Homo sapiens: one gene and its partners. The protein of the gene in region 4 purifies or fractionates together with the protein of the main gene of each other region. This does not show direct contact. Each region holds a gene or a part of one and is shown on either strand. Other genes may lie near its edges.

What was found.
Region 1: the proteins of TMEM41B (region 4) and COPG2 purify together in Homo sapiens (affinity purification with mass spectrometry, with the first as the bait; one large-scale study listed by BioGRID). This does not show direct contact.
Region 2: the proteins of TMEM41B (region 4) and ATP4A purify together in Homo sapiens (affinity purification with mass spectrometry, with the first as the bait; one large-scale study listed by BioGRID). This does not show direct contact.
Region 3: the proteins of TMEM41B (region 4) and SLC5A6 purify together in Homo sapiens (affinity purification with mass spectrometry, with the first as the bait; one large-scale study listed by BioGRID). This does not show direct contact.

The regions. Positions count from the first base shown.
Region 1 is NC_000007.14:130,508,744-130,511,748, forward strand, and holds part of COPG2 (coatomer subunit gamma-2), read right to left. Parts: intron 1-3,005. UniProt on the Homo sapiens protein: The coatomer is a cytosolic protein complex that binds to dilysine motifs and reversibly associates with Golgi non-clathrin-coated vesicles, which further mediate biosynthetic protein transport from the ER, via the Golgi up to the trans Golgi network.
Region 2 is NC_000019.10:35,549,531-35,553,658, forward strand, and holds the end of ATP4A (potassium-transporting ATPase alpha chain 1), read right to left. Parts: intron 3,653-4,128; coding exon 3,507-3,652; intron 2,051-3,506; coding exon 1,917-2,050; intron 1,582-1,916; coding exon 1,480-1,581; intron 1,396-1,479; coding exon 1,304-1,395; intron 1,114-1,303; coding exon 1,085-1,113; 3' UTR 501-1,084; downstream 1-500. UniProt on the Homo sapiens protein: The catalytic subunit of the gastric H(+)/K(+) ATPase pump which transports H(+) ions in exchange for K(+) ions across the apical membrane of parietal cells.
Region 3 is NC_000002.12:27,199,087-27,202,268, reverse strand, and holds the end of SLC5A6 (sodium-dependent multivitamin transporter), read left to right. Parts: intron 1-194; coding exon 195-281; intron 282-421; coding exon 422-603; intron 604-815; coding exon 816-919; intron 920-1,155; coding exon 1,156-1,271; intron 1,272-1,689; coding exon 1,690-1,833; coding exon of another isoform or gene 1,834-1,879; 3' UTR 1,880-2,682; downstream 2,683-3,182. UniProt on the Homo sapiens protein: Sodium-dependent multivitamin transporter that mediates the electrogenic transport of pantothenate, biotin, lipoate and iodide.
Region 4 is NC_000011.10:9,280,154-9,283,593, forward strand, and holds the end of TMEM41B (transmembrane protein 41B), read right to left. Parts: coding exon 3,271-3,440; 3' UTR 501-3,270; downstream 1-500. UniProt on the Homo sapiens protein: Phospholipid scramblase involved in lipid homeostasis and membrane dynamics processes. Has phospholipid scramblase activity toward cholesterol and phosphatidylserine, as well as phosphatidylethanolamine and phosphatidylcholine.

The DNA.
Region 1 (3,005 bases), on a different chromosome or scaffold from region 4:
TCCACATTTTCCAGTTAAACACACATGCCCTGTTGTCTGGGGTAGTGGTTCTCAAAAGCAGCCTACAAGCGGGTCAGGAAGGCAGTCTCACAAAGCATGAATGTAAAGTCTATTCCACGCTGTGGGTTACAGCAGTACAGAAATGATAACATGGGCAGACTGTTTCTCTATTGGTATGAAGAAAGCAGCAGAGAGGTACTTTTGGGGGCTTTTTGCCATGCCTATCAAAGGGGCCTAAATGTTGAAAAATAAATATTTTGAGAACCACTGCTGTAGGACCTGACCAAAAAAAAAAACAAAAAAAAAACCTGTGGTAAAAAGCATACAGATCATCAGATTAACATTGACCAATCTCATCAGCATCTCAATACTATCTTTAGATTGTGGACTGATGGCGGGTCCACAGATCACCAGAGAGAACTTGCTTTATCTGTCAACCTTCAGCCTAAAGTGAGTAGGTCAGTAATGAGTTTCTAGTATTGGTAAAGTCAGTGTCTTAAATGGAAAAGCAAGTGGGCAGTTGTATGTTTTCACACAAGTGGTGTTAAGTAATAAGAAATGGAGGTGGGGGTACATTTTTGGAAAGTGAAGTCTTTATAAAAAGTAAAGACAGTATTTTCTGAAATGTTTGAAGGAGGGGATTTAGCAAGCAGGGATGAAGAAAAGGCATTTAGGATCTTGTCTATGGTCTGGAAAAAGCTTATAGGTACAAAAAATATTAGATATTGGGAGAGTTAAAAAGTTATTTGGGGGATAGGCAAGGAGAGGAAAGAACAGGCTCAGATGTGAAGACCATATACGACAGATTGGGTAATAAGACTTTCATCTGCTCAGTCTTGACTTTAAATTCCATCCATTCATCCATCCACACATGTAGTGACTGTCAATACATGTTGACATTACACGTAAAGGTATAAGCTTATGTGCCAGACACTTGGATAAAAAGATGACTGAGACATGATCTCTGTCTCTAGGAGCTGTCTAGGAGTTAAATAAGTGTGTGGGCTGTGTGTGTGTGTGATCTATCTATGACTTTACAACTCAATGCCATAGATCCTTTAAGTTTTAAGAGAGTGCCATGTGAGGGTGCGGGATTAACAAATAGCCTGGGAAAACTGTAAAAAATGTGAAACGATATAATAGTTTAACTGGCTCTCAAAAGATGCAAAAGAGCTTTGGCAAGCAGAGGAAGATGTACAAACAGGCAAAAGGAAAGAGGCCAGAAAGTCCACCGGGCAGCTGGAAACAGTAAGAGGCATGCTAATGCCTAGGTGCTGAGAAGATAATTTGTTTAGGAATAAATTGTAAAATACCTTGTATTTCAAATGATTTTCCAACAGGCTCTGGTGAGCTGAGGCAGTCAAGAGATTGAAAGGTTAGAGATAAGCTAGATAAGGTGCCTAATTTAAGCCACTGGTGGGGACTATGAAGAATGGGTCTGAATTCAGAGAGCAGATGGATTCAACAGAATATGCTGAAAACAGACGATGGCAGTGGGTTTTCCCATATAGGAAAGAATGAACCTATCAAGCCTGCAGAATCAATTTCAATGCCATTAGGGGTTGAGAAAAGAACGACTGTGGTTTAATTAGGATAGGATTTTCTTCAGAGAGAAGGGGAAAGAAGTGAAAGTTAACACAAGGCCAGAACAGGTCAGGTGAGGCATTTTTTTTAAACCATGAAAGAGATACAGAATATGGTAGGGGAAAAGGTCATGATCAAGTTAGAATGAAGAGTCAGGAGAGACATTAATTATAGCAACCCAGTGTGGTTCCAATTAAGCAGAGAGGCTACAGCAAATGAGGAGGACAAAGAGACAACATCAGGTATGAAGGCAGATCACAGACTGGGCACAGGGGCTGAGTTTTATGTGGAGGTAAAGACAGAAGACACTTACATATAAGGACCTGATACAGAGAAAGAGATTAAGGAAGTAAATAGGAATGGTGTTAGTAGAGATAATGTTCCTGAAACCTTAGTGGGAATTTTTTTACTTAAATGGTTTGATTGATACAATGAGAGGTTACAGGGATCTAAGGAAGTCTAGGCAGTAATCTGTCGAAGCTGCTGGAGAGGATGACGAAATGGGGCGAGGAGGCAAGATGCGGGGGCCTTTCCATGGCAAGAAAATACTGAATGCACTGCCATAATGTAAATATGAGAGTTACACAGACAAAGCAAGGCAAATACCAAAGAGAATCAGGAAAGAATGCCCTGAAGATCTGCATTAAAACTGTTCTCTGAAATTAAGCTTGTCTTGTGAGGATTCACTGAAAATGAGAGTCAACCACTAAGGAGATTTGTATGAAAAGAACCCAGCGAATTAGAGAAAAGATAGATGCTGGCAGCTAAGACAGGAGAGGGACATGTGAGTTGGGCCAGGGTACAGAAAATGCAGTGTGGCAAAGGGCAGAGTGGGAAAGGTGGGAGGGAGCTGCCAGGTCTCAACCACCTGGGGGAGACCATGACAAAGTAAGAGACACTTATGAGGTATTTCCAGAAAGCTTTGTTAGAATAATAATTAAAGAAAAGGGTATGTCACTAGGGCAAAAGATTAGAAAGAAGGCAAAAGAGATGGATCTGTACAGGCTAACTGCAGCAGTCTATGCAGGTCTGGACTGAACTGAGAAGCAATGGGTGCAGCATAGTGTGTAGGACATCGAGGAAAGCTGGGCAGTGAGTGCCAAAATAAGCAATACACACCTACCTGGAAAATCGTGTTGAGTCTGTGGGAATGCTGTACAAATGGTGGGAGGGAGTTTTTCTCTAGGACAAATTCAGAAAGGGAAGGAGGAATGGTACTGGAAAGCAACATTAGAGTTGTCCTCAGATGAAAAGGAGTTGGTCACTAAGGAATGACACACATCAACAGGAAGGTAAGACAGCATTGCTGGGCCAAAAGTCATAAGAGAGTATGAAATAAGAGACTGGAAGCAAAGGAAAGAAAATATTACATAAGGAAGGGCCTACTGGCAGAGCAGGTGTGGAATAAAGATTTAGAATGG
Region 2 (4,128 bases), on a different chromosome or scaffold from region 4:
GGGGGTGATGAAGAGGCCAGTGTAGGTCACCAACACTGGGGGAAGCTGGGGACAGAGGTGGGTCTCACTGCAGAAACAACTGAAGCCATGGGGGACTGGGGGGCTGTGGTCACAAGGAAGGAGAAGCCCAGGCCCTAGCCAGAGAAAGCCACATAAGAAAGAGGAAGAGAGGTGAACAGAGGGGCTGGGAAAGGAGCGGCAGAGATGGGAGGTAGGGGGATGGGGTTAACCTTTCAGGTGAGGGGTGTGAGGAGGGGACCTCCAGGAGTTGTTCAGGAACTGGCCATTGCCGGGACAGAGGAGTAAGCAGGTAGGCTCAGAAAGGAGACACCGCTGGGGGGTGGGGGATGCTTGATGTGGAAATGACTTGGGCCCCCTTGTGTCTGGGAGCCTCCAGGAGGGAGAAGGGTGCTGAGAACAGAGAAAGCCCAGAGGTGGTAGGGGGTGCCTATCGCCACGGCCCAGCTTGCGTTTAGATGCCATGACCCTGGGCAAAGGAATAGGAATCATTTCCCCAAGGCAGGTTTATTGAGGACCTACTATGTGCCAGGCTGTGTACTAGGCACTGGAGGTGCAGCCCTGGATAAACAGCCCCCATGTACAGGACTGTGGGAGATCACAAGCACTAATGAGAGACGCTGAGGACAGTGCCTGGCACCAGATACAGCACAGTCAGCATGAGCTGGTTTTATTACCATCGCCCAGGACACAAGCGTGTCTTTAACGAAGGGCCCTCAGGCAGCCGTCCAGCCTGGACTGGAGTCCTAAGAACAGAAACACCCTCCAGAAGCGGTCAGCTGTACTCCCTGTCAGAGCCCCACCGCCACCACAGGTGGCGGCTTTCCCGAGGCCAGCCCAGAGGACTGCCCAGGCGCTGCTGCTCCAGGAGGTGCGAACCTTGGGAATGGGGGAGGGGAGTGGGCAGGTCCCTCCAAGTTTGGGGTGCCGTGGGCTACAGAAGCAGATACTGGTGGGGCTGGGACTCTTGGTTGCTCAGATATCTTGGTGGCTGTCCAGAGGGTCCCACGAGCCCTGCCCCCACCTGCTGTGGCAGTTGCAGGGATGCTTGAAGGCAGTCGTCCCTCTAATAGTAGAGTTCCTGGTCCCACCAGCCTGGGAGAGAGAGGGAGAAAGGAGACTCAGTGCTGGGGGTGCCACTTAGGCAGGGCCAGGGGCTCAGAGGTCAGTGCTGGTTGCTATGGAGGGTCAAGGGCTTAGAGGCCAAGTGTTGAGGATCAAAGGTGGGTGCAGCTGCTCAAACGTTTCAGTCCCCTGCCCCCAGGCTCCCAGTCTCCACACTCACTCCCTGGGCAACAGCGAACTCCAAGCTTCCGGATCTCATCATAGACGAAGATGAGGATGCCGTAGGGCAGGGGGACCAGCCACCACTGGAACCTGAAGGCACATGGCAAGGTGAAGGCCATCCCAGGCCTGTGCCCTACAGCCCCCTCCCTGTCCTTGCCCCTCACAGCCTCTCACCGAATGGGCATGAAGTTGAAGATGTTGGGCATGCCGGGGCAGTAGCACAGGAAGCAGCCGATGCAGACCTGGAACACGATGGCGATCACCAGGATCTTATTCCTGGGGGTGGGCAGAATGGGACAGGCCATTAGGAATTGGGGACGTGATGGAAATCAGGATACTGTGGGTCAAAGTAGGTCAGATGTCAGCAGCAGCAGGGAGGTGTTCTACACACTGAACACTGGAGTGGCCCGGGCCTCTCAGCACCACCCCTTTAGTGAAATGTGGAGGGGGCCGTGGGGGGAGTTATTGGCCAGTTAGAAAGGTTTTTTTGGCATGTCACCATCTGGCACTGGCACCCGCTGGCATTTGCCGGCTGTTCTAAACCACAGTCAGGATCTGATGGGAGTTGGGACCAGGGGTTGGAGGGCAGGAAGAGGGCCAGCCAGGGACACCTGAAGAAGCCTTGCTGGAAGGCAGAGAGACGGCGCGTCTTGCGGATGAGGACATCGGCGATCTGGCACACCTCAATGCTGATGAAGAACACGGTGTAGCAGGTGTACTGCTGGTACAGGCGCTGCCCGAATGTCTGCAGGCCAGGGGCAAACGGAAACAGCCTGAGTCCAGCCTGAGTCCCGGCGGAGAGCCTCTGCAGCCCACCGGGCATAGGGTCCCAGGGCCGTGAACCCCTAAATGCTCTCTCTGCCTTGCATCAGAGTGTGGGGGTGGGGGGAAGGAGAGAGGCAGGGTCTGCCAGGTGTGCAGGACCCCAGAACGTGGGGCCCAGAAACCTCAGCCTAGCAGAGCTTGGATGACAGTGGCCGGGAAAACTGTAGGCTGGGCCGACTGCTTTCATAGTGAAAGGGGGGAGGCACCCAAAAGAAAGGGCCTGGGAAAGGGGAATTGAAATCCTCAGATGGGATTTGCAAAGTCCAGTGACTCCAGGGGCCAGGCAGATGGCAAAAATAGGTGAGGCAGTCACCGCGGGCCTTTGGGAAAAGAGGGCAGATGCCCCATTTAAAGGGGGCAGCCACTATGCAGCCCATTTCTTCAACACAGCTACTTTTTTTTTTGAGATGGAATCTCGCTCTGTCACCCAGGCTGGAGTGCAGTGGTGCAATCTCAGCTCACTGCAACTTCCGAATCCCAGGTTCAGGAGATTCTCCTGCCTTAGCCTCCCAAGTAGCTGGAATTACAAGCATGTGCCACCATGCCTGGCAACACAACTCCTAATACCAGCTAACTGTGGGGATCACTGACTGCTCCAGGTGCCGAGTGTTGCACGTGCATTAGCTCATTTAATCCGCTGGGTAACCCTAGGAGGTAAATCAGTGGTGCTGGAACTTGAACATGCATGAGAATCCCAGCAAGGGCTCCCAGAGGGCTGGGATAGAGCCTGAGAATTTGCACTGCAAACATGTTCCCAGGAGATGGTGATGCTGCTGGTCTGGGAGCAAACTGAAAACCACTGAGGTAGACTTTGATATTCTCTCCACTTTGCAGGTGAGAAAACAGGCACAGAGAGGCAAAGCAACCTGCCCAGGGTTACACAGCTTGTGAGAAGCAGTACCAGACCATAAGTCCAGGCAGTCTGGCTTCAGTGTCTACCTTAACCATGATAGTAAATGTTTAAGGGAAGTATCCTCGTCTGTATGTAACTCTACAGGTGAACTAAACACATCTGCTGGCCAGATCTAGCCTCACTGTGCTCCAAACCTTCATTAAAATAGACCACATGTGCAAATACCCTGTGGGAGTGATGCTGTAGGGAAAATAGCAGAATAGGGGCCTGGTTCCACATCTGAGATGATGCATTAGTGTCAGGGCAGAGACACCCATCTGCAGTTGCGATCATCAGAAGCAGGAGTTTGGAGCTGGAGATGGTGGGAAAGGCCCTTGCCCCCCCGAACTGGCAGGGAGTCTGGGGGTCCGGGATGCTCTGGCTGAACTCAGTCACACGTGGAGGAACAAGTGGGCCGCACACAAGGCAAGTTGCCCTGGGAAGGAGGGAGCCCAGGGATGGGATGGGGCGGGGCAGGGCTCACCCACTCCTGGCCGTAGCTGTCCTGCAGATCTTGTAGGTGGTGGTCCTCCCACTGCGCCCGCAGCCCCACGCACAGCAGTGGGAACCAGCCCTCCTGGGCCATTGCCGTGAAGTAGTCAGTGAAGCCAGCAAAGGACTGAATGGCACCTGGAGAGAGACAAGGGGACACAGGGAGACAGAGATGGACACAGAGACAGGGACACAGGAAGAGAGGGACATGGAGAGACAGGGACACAGATACACAAAGGTCAAGGACACACAGACAGGGACACGGGAAGAGAGACAGGGACACAGATACACAAGGTCAAGGACACACAGAGCCAGGGACACAGAAACAGTGACAGAGACACAGAGGCAGAGAGAGAAGCAGGGACAGAGAGACAGAGGCAGGGACAGAGAGAAAAAGACACATCCAGGACCCAAAAAGACAGAAATAGGCAACAACTCAGAGACAGGGTCATGGAGAGCAAGGTCAGAGAGAGAGCAGGGACACAGCAGAACCAGAGAGACTGTCACAAACAGAGAGGGACACGGAGGACAACGGAGACCCAGGACCAAATGCAGACACTGAGGTCCAGAACCAGCCGGAGCCCAAGGCAGGGCCTGGGGCAGGCGAGCAGCCC
Region 3 (3,182 bases), on a different chromosome or scaffold from region 4:
CGGCCTCCCAAACTGCTGGAATTACAGGCATGAGCCACCGCTCGGCCACCTCTGGAGTTCTGATTGTTCCCACAGAAGAGACAGATCTGACAAGTGGGGCTCCAAGGTCATGGCTGGTGGCTATGCTTTATGGTGAGTCTGGGCATCTCTGAGTCTGTGTTCTTTTTCCTTTTCTTCTCACCCTGTCCTCCTAGGCAGCAATCAGCATCTTTGGCATGGTTGGGGGACCGCTGCTGGGACTCTTCTGCCTTGGAATGTTCTTTCCATGTGCTAACCCTCCTGTGAGTGATGCATCTGGATCCACAGTCATGTGTAGCAGGATGGACCTGGGGGTTGGCAGGGCTGTCACCAGGAGAGCTGAGGACTGCCGTGAGGGCTGGCAGGACTGGCCTTGTGACAGGCCTGCACTGTGTCTCGGCAGGGTGCTGTTGTGGGCCTGTTGGCTGGGCTCGTCATGGCCTTCTGGATTGGCATCGGGAGCATCGTGACCAGCATGGGCTCCAGCATGCCACCCTCTCCCTCTAATGGGTCCAGCTTCTCCCTGCCCACCAATCTAACCGTTGCCACTGTGACCACACTGATGCCCTTGACTACCTTCTCCAAGTAAGGCAGGGCTTGCTATCTTCTTGTTTTCTCAAAGCCCTCCTTTGAGGGCTTTCACAGGGGTCTTGCTAAGGGATGGGCCACCAGAGGCCCCAGGGAAATGTTGGGTATTGGGTCCCAAGACCCTGGGACCATGCGGGCAAGTAGAGATTGGTGCCCAAGGAATGCCCTGCCAACGAATTGCTAATTGTTCTCACCTCTGCTCTTCCCAGGCCCACAGGGCTGCAGCGGTTCTATTCCTTGTCTTACTTATGGTACAGTGCTCACAACTCCACCACAGTGATTGTGGTGGGCCTGATTGTCAGTCTACTCACTGGTAAGGGTGTGGGATTGCGGTGCAGATGAGCACCGAGGGGTTAACAGAGGGCCCTAAGGGACTCTAGGGAGAAAGGCTCCTGCCCTCTGAGCTCTTGGGTGTCCGTAGCTGTCAGGCTTTTCTGCTGGGATGTAGGAGGTGGGTGGGGGCTGGGGTCTCTGGGGGCCAAGGGAGGACATGGGGCCCGCTGCTGTGGATGGTTCCACCCAGAGACTCAGAAGCACATTTCCATTCAGGGAGAATGCGAGGCCGGTCCCTGAACCCTGCAACCATTTACCCAGTGTTGCCAAAGCTCCTGTCCCTCCTTCCGTTGTCCTGTCAGAAGCGGCTCCACTGCAGGAGCTACGGCCAGGTAGTACCTGCTGTCCAAGTGACCCCTCCCTGCCCTTCTCCACAGATGCCACTGACTCTTCAGGTTCCCTTCTACCCCTTTTCTCTCCCCCTGCCCCGGGTGCCTCTCTCAGGATCAGCTAAGCCTAGGCTGTCCCACACGGCTGTCTCAGGTTCTACCCACAGGACTGCACTGGCTTGGTGGGCAGAAGGATCTCAGGGCTCAGAGGAGCTCAGCCCCAGCCTGGGCCAGTCAGCTCCCCTCCCCAGCCCACCCTGTGCTCCCTGCTGTGCTATGCCCTCCCTCTTTTCCCCCTGCTCTCCCTCCCGAACCCAGCCTTGCTGGGCTCCCTTCTGGCGGGGACCTTTTTTGTGTGAATCCTGTCAAGCACCCGTCATCCGTCTTCACCAGTTCCACCCCTTTGGCTCTGTGTTTGCAGGACCACCTCGACACTGGCCTGTTTCCTGAGAAGCCGAGGAATGGTGTGCTGGGGGACAGCAGAGACAAGGAGGCCATGGCCCTGGATGGCACAGCCTATCAGGGGAGCAGCTCCACCTGCATCCTCCAGGAGACCTCCCTGTGATGTTGACTCAGGACCCCGCCTCTGTCCTCACTGTGCCAGGCCATAGCCAGAGGCCACCCTGTAGTACAGGGATGAGTCTTGGTGTGTTCTGCAGGGACAGGCCTGGATGATCTAGCTCATACCAAAGGACCTTGTTCTGAGAGGTTCTTGCCTGCAGGAGAAGCTGTCACATCTCAAGCATGTGAGGCACCGTTTTTCTCGTCGCTTGCCAATCTGTTTTTTAAAGGATCAGGCTCGTAGGGAGCAGGATCATGCCAGAAATAGGGATGGAAGTGCATCCTCTGGGAAAAAGATAATGGCTTCTGATTCAACATAGCCATAGTCCTTTGAAGTAAGTGGCTAGAAACAGCACTCTGGTTATAATTGCCCCAGGGCCTGATTCAGGACTGACTCTCCACCATAAAACTGGAAGCTGCTTCCCCTGTAGTCCCCATTTCAGTACCAGTTCTGCCAGCCACAGTGAGCCCCTATTATTACTTTCAGATTGTCTGTGACACTCAAGCCCCTCTCATTTTTATCTGTCTACCTCCATTCTGAAGAGGGAGGTTTTGGTGTCCCTGGTCCTCTGGGAATAGAAGATCCATTTGTCTTTGTGTAGAGCAAGCACGTTTTCCACCTCACTGTCTCCATCCTCCACCTCTGAGATGGACACTTAAGAGACGGGGCAAATGTGGATCCAAGAAACCAGGGCCATGACCGGGTCCACTGTGGAGCAGCCATCTATCTACCTGACTCCTGAGCCAGGCTGCCGTGGTGTCATTTCTGTCATCCGTGCTCTGTTTCCTTTTGGAGTTTCTTCTCCACATTATCTTTGTTCCTGGGGAATAAAAACTACCATTGGACCTAGAATTTGGGCTCCTGTACTGTCTTCACCTGCTCTTGTCCACCCTACTGCATCCTCTGGTGAGGATAAGGAGTCCTATCCTATGTACAGGTCACCTTCCTGTGCTGAGGAGGGGGGCTGTGGCTTCAAGTCCCTGCTGTCCCTGTGTCTGCAGGGGACAGTGTTGTGCTCACCATGGTAGAAGATGCACACCCTCTCCTAGGGCTTCTCATCCCCTGGGGCTTACTTAGTCTGTCCCTTCTCCGGCCCCACTTTCCCTTTGCCAGAACCTTTTGCTCTCAGATTTTTACTTTTGGAACTGGAGGAAGAATGTTCCCATCTGATTTTAGAAACGGAACATTCTAGCTGGACTTTTATGGTCTTGTGAAGAACACTGTGCTCACACCCTCCCACACCTGGCCTCTGCCCCTGCCTGGCCCTGTTCAGCTGCCCACATCAGCTCTGCACCAGCTCTCCGGGGTCTCTTAACAGAGACCGGGTCCCAGGCATATCTGAATTCAGCCTC
Region 4 (3,440 bases):
TCTCGAACTCCTGACCTCAGGTGATCCACCCACCTTGGCCTCTGGAAGTGCTAGGATTACAGGTGTGAGCTACCGTGCCCGGCCATTTCATTGTTCTTAGTGGTGAAAATGTACATCGAAATTTAAGAATATACTTTTATTCAACGAAGAGTTTGTTTTTAGTTTTTTGAGACAGAGTCTGGCTCTGTTGCCCAGGCTGGAATGCAGTGGCACAATTTCATCTCATGGCAACCTCCACCTTCTGGGTTCAAGCAATTCTTCTGCCTCAGCCTCCCAAGTAGCTAGGACTATAGGCGTGTGCCACCACACCTGGCTAATTTTTCATATGTTTAGTAGAGACGGGGTTTCACTGTGATGGCCAGGCTGGTCTTGAACTCCTGACTGCAGGTGATCCACCTGCTTCGACCTTCCAAAGTGCTGGGATTACAGGCGTGAGCCACCTTGCTCGGCCAGAGTTTTTTAATGTAAGTACTTCCATGAAATAAATCCCAAATGTGACATTTAGGTTTCTCCAATACAATTTATTATTATTACATTTTAGCTTGCATTTACTAAGTGTCATGGAAATATTATACTCAAAATAACAGAGCTCCAGAGAAAGACAGTTAACTAAGAAAGAACAGTTTCACTTTCTTAGCTTGTCAACTCCTAGTTAGCCTGCTTGCCTCCGCACCACAGATGCTTGTCTTCTTGTGGTTGTTACCACAAGCCAAAGCTTGAATTTACATGGGCATCAGGCCAAGTCTGTAAATCCGTGAAGACAGGCCATCAACTGCATTGAGGGTACAGCCTTGCTGAAGGGTCCTTTCTTGACAGTCAATGATGATGAATCTGGAAAAACTGTCTATTCTCTTAGGAGAAGAAAATATACCCCACCTAAAGTCGCAGCTACCATTAACAAAAAAAAAAATTAGCAAAGGGAAAGAATCAATGGTAAGGACAGTAAATATACTCTGAGAATAGAGTAAGTACAATTTACACACGCTGGAGTAAATAGTGAAGCTTCTACTGAGTTCTACTGAGTCTAAGCTCTTTTATTTTTAAAATTCTGATAAAAATTTACTCAATTACATTTTATACATTAATATTTAGTGAATTTGTCCAAAAAGGCTATGTTTAATTTATGTGTAAAAATAACAAAAGATGTATCAGTCAGTCTCTGGGCAATAAGAAAGGAAGAAAGCCTTGCTAGAAATAATAAATAATCTCACGCAAAAGGCCAGGTGACATAAGAATACTACAATAATCAATATGTTTTCTTTGTATTTACAATAAAATCCATCTGTTAACACTGTGATAGAAAAAATAATCAGTCCACATCATGTAATAAAAACAGGCTTTGAGGATGATTATACCTCTTATAATAAAAACATACAAGGATTTCTCACAGCTAAAGTACTTTTCAACTTTGACAACTAATAACAGTCATGGGTGAAGGTAAAACTGACAGAGTACTTTAGATCAGCTATGTCCTACAGTCAAGGAATCAAGGGCATTACCCATTTACCAAGCAGCAAAAAGCACTTTCATTTTTCCAGAACTATTTAAATACAGTAGTTGCCATGTGATCAGTTAATTTTACTTTGTGAGTTAGATAAAGTAAAGACTAAATTGGGAAACTGCAATAAGTAATCAAAAGTAGCTCCAAACAACAAAGCCATCAATAGAAACAAAAGGCATTTTTCTAGGTGTATCATGCATAAAAAGAATAATTACATAATATTATTAAATATATTCCTTAATGACCAGATTAATAAATGAGGTAAAATTTAGTCATTGGAACAAATAAACTATATTTAATCACTTGTGTTTTGCTGTCACTGTTTAAAATAATTAACTTAATGTCTAAAAACTACATACTCTTGAATGTTTGCTTTTTAGAGCCCCTTGTGGGATATTAAAGAGCCATAACAAATTATCTGAATATAAATTATCAATACCAGGCTGGGCACAGTGGCTCATGCCTGTAATCCCAGCACTTTGGGAGGTGGAAGTGGGCATATAGCCTGAGGTCAGGAGTTCAAGACCAGCCCGGCCAACATGGTGAAACCCCGTCTCTACTAAAAACACAAAAATTAGCTGGGCACGGTGGCACACACCTGTAATCCCAGCTACTCAGGAGGCTGGGCCAGGAGAATCGCTTGAACCCAGGAGGCGGAGTTTGCAGTGAGCCGAGATCACACCACGCACTCCACTCCAGCCTGGGCAACAGCAAGACTCCGTCTCAAAAAAAAAAAAAATTATCAATACCAAATATGATACAGTTATGTAATACCCATTTTGCATATGCACAGTGGAAATACTGTAAAAACTACAAGATGAAAGAAAACCGACTGGCCAGAACTTTAAATTTCAGACTAATCCATGATAAAAATCTAGATGATAAAAAACAAAAATAAAATTAACAAAATAGATAACTTGATATCCTTTCCATATTCAGTCGTCTACTAACATGCCATCTCCAAACAAATCCATTACCTCAAAAGAGGAAGAAAATGGGCCAGGCGCGGTGGCTCACGCCTGTAATCCCAGCACTTTGGGAGGCCAAGGCGGGCAGATCACGAGGTCAGGAGATCGAGACCATCCTGGCTAACACGGTGAAACCCCGTCTCTACTAAAAATACAAAAAAATTAGCTGGGCATGGTGGCGGGCGCCTGTAGTCCCAGCTACTCAGGAGGCTGAGACAGGAGAATGGCGTGAACCCAGGAGGTGGAGCTTGCAGTGAGTGGAGATCGCGCCACTGCACTCCAGCCTGGGCGGCAGAGCTAGACTCCGTCTCAAAACAGAAAAAAAAAAAAAAAAAAAAAGAGGAAGAAAATGTAAATCTCTTTTTAAGTTTTCCAGTTTATGCTCTGAAAAAAGCCTAACATTAACAAAACCTGCAACACTACTTTAAAAAATCTAGAATTTAAAAATATCTATTTTAGTTATTAAAGATAAAAAATATTCAATTAAATTGAATGAATTAGCTGGATCAACAATTTCCTACCACACTACTATTATCTACAGCTACCCTTGGTATAATAATTTATAAGATGTCTAAGATGTCTACCTTAACTATTGATAGCACTTTTCACAGTATACCAATTTCCATTTTTACTTTCTTCTCCCCTTGTCACTTAAATGTATTACTTTAACTATCTGATAGGAAATTTTATTTTACAAATTCCTTGTTTAATTACTGAAGAGGTGATTTTAAAACATAAATGGATGCACCTGTTAATCCTGAGATGGTGATGACAGCAAAACTAAAAATCAGATGATTATTTTTACTCAAATTTCTGCTTTAGTTTTTTTTGGAAGATGGCTGGCAGAATAGAAAGAACAGCCAAGATCATCAGAATAAATATTGAGTTCCAGGAAACAGCTTCTCCTGCTGTTGTAAGTTGATACAGTGTTGTTCCTGCCTTAATGGCTACAAAAGAAGGAGGTGCGACAC